Linked DNA regions of Homo sapiens. The protein of the gene in region 1 interacts with the protein of each later gene in a pairwise test. Each region holds a gene or a part of one and is shown in the gene's direction. Other genes may lie near its edges. The genes, in order: KCNK4 and ORMDL1.

Region 1 (4,402 bases):
AGAATTGCCCCACTACCTCCAGATCCCTCTCCACTTGAACAGTTGCTACTCTTTCCTCAAGACCTGCGTCAACTGTTACCTCCTTTAGGAAGCCTTCTGTCTCCTGGTCAAGGGACATGGCCCCTCTGCTGGGCCCCACAGCTCCACATTACTGATTATGTGGCCATTGAGGTTCTTTGTTTTGTTTTGTTTTTTGAAGCAGGGTCTCACTCTGTCACTCAGACTGGAGTGCAGTGGCACGATCATGGCCCACTGCAGCCTCAACCTACCAGGCTCAAGCAATCCTCCTGCCTCAGCCTCCCGAGTAGCTGGGAATACAGGCACATGCCACCATTCCTGACTAATTTTTTAATTTTTAATTTTAGAGGTGGGGTTTCACCATGTTGCCCAGGCTGGTGTCGAACCCCCGGGCTCAAGCAATCCACCCACCTCAGCTTCCCAAAGTGCTGGGATTACAGGCATGAGGTACCATGCCTGGCAGCTTCTGAGTCTTAACCCCAATGGATTAGACTTTCTGGAGGCCCTGTTTCCCTATCACCACCCCAACCTGGTCTTTAGGAGTCAGGAGTTAGTCCAGGGCTTGCTGGGGAGTTGGCGCAGTGACTGAGCAGCCCCCATCTTCCTACCAGGGCGTGGGTTTGCCCAGATGTACAGGTGGTCCCCTAGCTATGCCCTCCCGTTAGCCCTCTTCTCCACTGTCCTTAGTAGCATAGTCACTGCCCTCTGCTTCCATGGCCCTGGCAGGTCTGTCTGATGGCTAGGAGTCCTTTGCTGGAGGGTCTGTCCCCTGCCCACATAGGTGGTTGTCCCAGCTTTTCAGAGTTCCCTTGGCTTATCACTGGGCCTGCTTCAAAACCCTTTACTTGGGACCATCCTGGGCACCAGGCCCTCAGGGCCTCCAGAGAGGGCATCTGAGACTCATAGAGAATCAGCTTGAAGCTGGACAATCACTTTTTGTTGAAATAAAAACTGCTAACGTTTGTGGGGCACTTTATTGTGTGTGCCAGGCTCTGTTTTGAGGATTTCTAAACACTGGCCTCCTTAATGCCCAGAACAGCACCCCGAAGTGATGATTAATCATCCCTTTTCTGTAAGTGGGAACAGGGAGACTCCAGAGTTTGGTAACCTGTTCAGGTTCCCTACCAGTAGCGGGTGGTCAGCCTCAAAGCCCAGGCTGAAAGCCATCCAGCATGAGGGCTGAGGACCCCAGCAGGCACCAGAGGGTCTTTGGAGAGGTCACAGGTTGTCAAGTGGGTGAGAACAGGGCGGGGCAAGTTCAGGACCAGCCAGGGCCTGGGTGTTCAGGCAGTGGGAGAGTGGATGCTGGCACCAGTGCCATGCTGGGATCTGCAGGCAGCTTCAGCCACAGCCTTCCGGGGCTGATTTCTGGGCATGGAAGTGAGAACCAAAAGCTGGGGCAGGGAGCACCCTGGAGGGATAGCCGGGGAGCAGGTAGAGGGCCAAAACCTGGAGTGGGGGCAGGAGGTGCTCCAGCAGCAACTCCCCCAGAGGTGGGTCCCAACCTCCACGTCGGCCAATTCCAGGTGGCCCCACCGGGTTTCCCCCACCCCTTTGTCCCGCGGAGCCCCTCCCTCATGAGTGCTGAGCCCAAGGGCCAGGCTGTCCCCAGGGGCGGAGAGTTGCGGACCCTTCCCGATCCGGTAATGGGCCTGGGAGATGCCAGATTAGCGTGGTGCCTGTCCGGAGAGACGGGCCAGCTGATGCCCAGGTCGGGGCCCTGCCGCTGGCCACACTGGGCTCCGGTCCAAGGCTAGAAGGCTGGCCCCTGCTGCAACCCCTCTCCGGCTCCTCTGCCACCCACCTCCCGGGGCTGGCCGGCTGTGGGGAGCCAGGCGGCCGCAGGTAAACGGCTTGGGGCGGCGCCGGCGGCGAGGGCGCTGCACGGAGGGAAGCGCGGCGCCGGAGGGGTTAACCGCGGGAGGAGGGGGGCTTCTGCCGGCGGGAGGGGGGTCCCAGCCCCGGCGGCCGCCCGCTCCGCCCCTGCCGCCTCCGCGGCCCAGTCGGCACCGGCGAGGCCGTGCTGGAACCCGGGCCTCAGCCGCAGCCGCAGCGGGGCCGACAGTAAGTGCGGTGCGGGCTCCGGTGCGCGGGCAGGACTCAGGGGCAGGGACGCCCCAGGGGCGACTGGCCGGGCGGGGTGCCCACCTCTCGCGCGTGGGCGCCTCCGGGAGTGGTGTGGCCGCCGGTCCCGCCGCCCGCCACGCTCCGAGGCGTCGCTGTGCGGACGCGGGGGAGGCGGTGGGAGCGAGCTGCGGGCGCTGCGCGGTGGCCCTGCTGTCTGGCGTGTGCACGCTAGTGTCCACACACGTGTGCGTGGGCTCTGGGTGCCCTGGCGCGGCCGGCACGCCCATGGGGGCCGGGGATGCCGGGGCGTCTGCGGAGAGTGCAGGTGGGGTGCGTGCGTGCAGCGGGGCGGCGCGGCGCTGCAGCCTCGGGATGGAGCGTGGGCGCGCGGGTCTTTGTGCCCGCGCTTGGCGGCGCGTGCCGGGGCGTGTGTGCGCGTGGGCGCCGCCGCCCGCTGTCTCGGACTGACAGCTGTCTCGGGGGCTGTCGCCCCGGTGTGGCCTTTGCGGACCCCCGCCCCGCTTTTTCCGGGAACTGGGCGTCCCCAGCACCCCTCCTCGCCTGGGTGCGGCGGCCGGGACCCGCCCCTGGGTTCCTCGAAAGCCCGGCGGGGCGCGGGGGCACCCTGGAGGGCCAGCCAGGAAGCAGGGCGAGGCGAGAGGGGACGGAGAAGCCGCGGAGATGCTGTCACAGCCGCAGCGGGCGAGCAGGGACCCACCATTCCCCTGTCCCCGCCTTGCGCTGTCCGGCCTCTCCTCCGGGTTTCCCTTCGGACGCCTCCGAGCCCCCTCAGCCTCCTCCTCGAGGGCCAGCTCCCCGCACCCCCACCAAGCTCCACACATTTCCTCGCTCGCCCCGCTTCCCCCTAGGCAGGCTTAGGCTCTCTTTCGGCCTCCCACTCGCCTTCCTTTCCCTTCTCGGTGCCCTCCTCTCTTTCCTCACCCGGTAGTCCCAGACAGGGGCTGAGGGCCGGGCAGCGGAGGTAAGGGGAAGGCTGGAGATAGGAGGGGGACTGGGTGTGTCCAGCCAGAGGGATGTCTGTGGACAGTGCAGCTGGGGGCTTTATGGATCTTTGGGTGTGTAGGGGATAGAGGAGGAGGGTGTGGGTGTCAGGCCAGCTCAGTGACCCCAGCATCCCTGGTTTTGCCCGCAGTGACGACAGCTCCCCAGGAGCCCCCCGCCCGGCCCCTCCAGGCGGGCAGTGGAGCTGGCCCGGCGCCTGGGCGCGCCATGCGCAGCACCACGCTCCTGGCCCTGCTGGCGCTGGTCTTGCTTTACTTGGTGTCTGGTGCCCTGGTGTTCCGGGCCCTGGAGCAGCCCCACGAGCAGCAGGCCCAGAGGGAGCTGGGGGAGGTCCGAGAGAAGTTCCTGAGGGCCCATCCGTGTGTGAGCGACCAGGAGCTGGGCCTCCTCATCAAGGTGCGTGGGTGGGCCGCAGCCCCTTCAGCTGTCACCCATCACCCCTGGCGCTAGCTGTGTGCCAGTGAGGCCCTGTGCCAGTGCTGCTTTCAGATCAGTATCCCTGAGGACGGGTGCAGTGGGAGGCTGTGGGACAGAGGCTGGGGACCAGGTCTCTGTGTTTTCAATAGGGCAACTGTGGGGTCATTTGTTTTCCTGGAGAGCCTGGCACAGGACTGTGCACCTATAATGTCTCCTTCAGGGTGTGATGGTGGTGGGATGAGGGGGAAATGAATGAATGAATGAATGGCCATAGCGCATGGGCTATGTTACATTTGCACAGGTCTCACTCACCGGTCTAGATTGCCACACAAAATCCAAGACTCTCATTTAAACATGAATTACAGTTAAACTGCAAATGCCTTTTTTTTTGAGACGGAGTCTCCCTGTGTCACCCAGGCTGGAGTGCAGTGGTGTGATCTCAGCTCACAGCAACCTCCGCCTCCCAGACTCAAGTGATTCTCCTGCCTCAGCCTCCCAAGCAGCTGGTATTACAGGGATTCATCACCACACCCGGCTAAATTTTGTGTTTTTAGTAGAGATGGGGTTTCACCATGTTGGCCAGGCTGGTCTCAAACTCCTGACCTCAAGTGATCCACCCGCCTCGGCCTCCCAAAGTGCTGGGATTGCAGACATGAGCCACCACACCTGGCCCACAAATGCCTTTTTAATACAAGTCCATCCCAAGCAATATTTTTGTTTGCTAAATCTGGCAACCCTACCTACACCGGTTCCCATACTTTTCTTGGAGTCATGTGCCTTAGAAAAGCCCAAGAACATGGTGAACACACCCCCTCCCCCTGGAAAAGTGTGCATATGAACATGTGCAGGTGATTTGGGAGGGTTCCAGGATCCATGC
Region 2 (2,600 bases), on another chromosome or scaffold:
AAACTGATCATAAAATAATGGGGTTCTTTTTCCTTAATTTATAGCCCTTTGAGGAAATTTTGAATTGATTTAGTCCCATATAATATTAACCTCAAAGAAAAGTGTCAGTGTAGTCTGATAAAAATAAATGTAAGCTACATGGGAAGCTGAGGCAGGAAGATGGTTTGAGCCTAGGAGTTAAGAGGCTGCAGTGAGCTGTAGTCACACTGCTGTACTCCAGTCTGGGCAACAGAGCAAGACCCGATTTATTAAATAAATAAGTGAATGAATGCATGCATGCATGTAATAACAAAAATATTGGTTATTCAGATGGCCCTGAATTTGGATTTTGGCTCAACCCCTTTGAAGCTCTGTGACTTTTGGCCGTTTTCTTCAAAAGCTCAGTTTTCTCATCTGTAAAACATTGAGGATTGCATTATAATACATGTAAAATGCCTGACATTCAGAAGTTTTAATCACAGCTATCACACAAAAAGCCAACTGAGATGTACCTGTATACAGTGTCCATATTTCTCAAAATGTATTTTTGACCAACAGGTATGATTTCAAATATTCTGATTAAATTGCTTACTTAACTGAAGAAATAGCATTAAAGCCATCTATATAGCATTAGGACTTTTCAGTGCTTTCACATTTTCTTATTTGATTATTTGTCAGGTAGGTGTGACATGGAATGTTATTCCAGAATTTTTTTTTTTTTTGAGACAAGAGTCTTGCTCTGCTGCCCAGGCCGGAGTGCAGTGGCATAATCTTGGCTCACTGCAACCTCCGCCTCCCAGGTTCAAGCGATTCTCCTGCCTCAGCCTCCCCAGTAGCTGGGACTACAGGCGTGCACCACCGTGCCCAGCTACTTTTTGTATTTTTAGTAGAGATGGGGTTTCACCATGTTGACCAGGCTGGTCTTGAACTTCTCACCTCAGGTGATCCGCCTGCCTTGGCCTCCCAAAGTGCTGGGATTACAGGGTGAGCCACCATATTCCAGATTTTTAAGTAAAGAAACAGACTCAAATGCATTACCTTGTTGAAGATCTTGCACCTAGTTGGAGTTCAGAGCTCAGGTTAAACCCTAAACTACTATCTTGTAATACAGGTCTCTTTCCAATATAGCTGTTGGCAAATAAATGTTGTCACACTGAGTCCCACCTGGGTTTTGCATACCATCAGAGGATTGCCTAAGTTTTTGAAAGAGTCAAGTAATTTTCATATAATCTACACACAAAATTAGTTTTAATTAAAAGACAAAAAGGGGACATATGCTAGGTTATAGTCAAAAGAACCCATTATAAGATTTATTATTTCTAACCTATCAGATTATAGATTCAACCTGTAATGATGGTGGGAAATGAAATGAGTTTGCTAAATGCAAGTGATGTCCTATTTTGTTCAGTAAAGGAAGTATAAATTTAGTCTTCAAATATATGAAAACAGGAAGAAAGAATTTCAGAATTGAGGAATATGGTTTACACTAGAGAAAGAATTTTCTGACTGTAGTTTGCAAAATAGGTGGAAGATTGTAGAATTTCTCAATCTAGATGGTTTTAAAAATGTATAAAATTCTCTTGTGATGTTTTTTGTCATACTTGGAAGTAGCTCCTCTCTTCTAACCATGTTACACAAGATATTTATTTTCCCTTATGAGAAACTAATGTCAGTAAAGGCTATTAGAATACTTTCCTTGCGTACTGCAAAGACCTAAATAGAAACTAACTTCTTAATTATGAACAAATAAGATATGATGTTTTATTCTTTACATCTTATCTGTATTATTCTGTTAGTAATCAGATGATGTGTCTGCACCTTGATATGATATACCTGTAGGTAAAACTAAACATTCTGGACTTGGTGATTTATGATTTTAAAGGTGCTTTTTAGGCTTGGGGCTTGTTAAAACAAATTCTCAGTTGGATATCCAAAAACATACATGCATTTGATTATTAAAAAGCAGCTGGAATGGTACAACAGTGTCTTTCAGGTTACCGGTTAAACTGGTTATAGAGCTGCTCAACTACAGTATGAAAATGAGAACATCAAAAGGGCAACCAAATATTTATTTCCTTCAAAGATAGGAATTGTACTAATGCACTAAAACCCCATTTTTTGGAGCTTTACAGTACAGGTTCTTAACCTGTGAGTCACAAAACTTTTTGAGAATAAGATGAATGCTTTGAATCCATATCTTTTTCAGAAACATACATGGAAATACAGAACTACACCTGTAATTACAGAGGGCATATGAACCCTAGTTTGATAAGCCTTGCTTTAAAGGATGCAGTGTGTTCTATTAAATGTATTTAATACAATTGCAGAAATGGAAAATGTGGACCTCCATTAAACAAATTTTTTAGTTCCTAATGAGATAAACTTGGGACCAAACCGATTCCTCTTGTTTTAGTGCTCAAAAATAGTTTCATTTTTAGGTATTTATGCTTTAGTGGCCTTTTTTTCTACCTTTAAAATTGTTTAAGTTCCAAGTAATTTTATTTTTGGATGTTATATATATTCTTAACTTTTATCTCTACAGATATTTTCTGGCAAGTTTCTATACGAAGTATGATCCAACTCACTTCATCCTAAACACAGCTTCTCTCCTGAGTGTACTA

What was found.
Region 2: the proteins of KCNK4 (region 1) and ORMDL1 interact in binary tests that used the Homo sapiens proteins (3 or more experiments, as listed by UniProt).

What each region holds. Positions count from the first base shown.
Region 1 is NC_000011.10:64,289,704-64,294,105, forward strand, and holds the start of KCNK4 (potassium channel subfamily K member 4), read left to right. Parts: upstream 1-1,598; 5' UTR 1,599-1,863; intron 1,864-2,018; exon of another isoform or gene 2,019-2,082; intron 2,083-2,294; exon of another isoform or gene 2,295-2,415; intron 2,416-3,238; 5' UTR 3,239-3,315; coding exon 3,316-3,504; intron 3,505-4,402. UniProt on the Homo sapiens protein: K(+) channel that conducts voltage-dependent outward rectifying currents upon membrane depolarization. Voltage sensing is coupled to K(+) electrochemical gradient in an 'ion flux gating' mode where outward but not inward ion flow opens the gate.
Region 2 is NC_000002.12:189,771,824-189,774,423, reverse strand, and holds part of ORMDL1 (ORM1-like protein 1), read left to right. Parts: intron 1-309; coding exon of another isoform or gene 310-319; exon of another isoform or gene 320-575; intron 576-2,521; coding exon 2,522-2,600. UniProt on the Homo sapiens protein: Plays an essential role in the homeostatic regulation of sphingolipid de novo biosynthesis by modulating the activity of the serine palmitoyltransferase (SPT) in response to ceramide levels.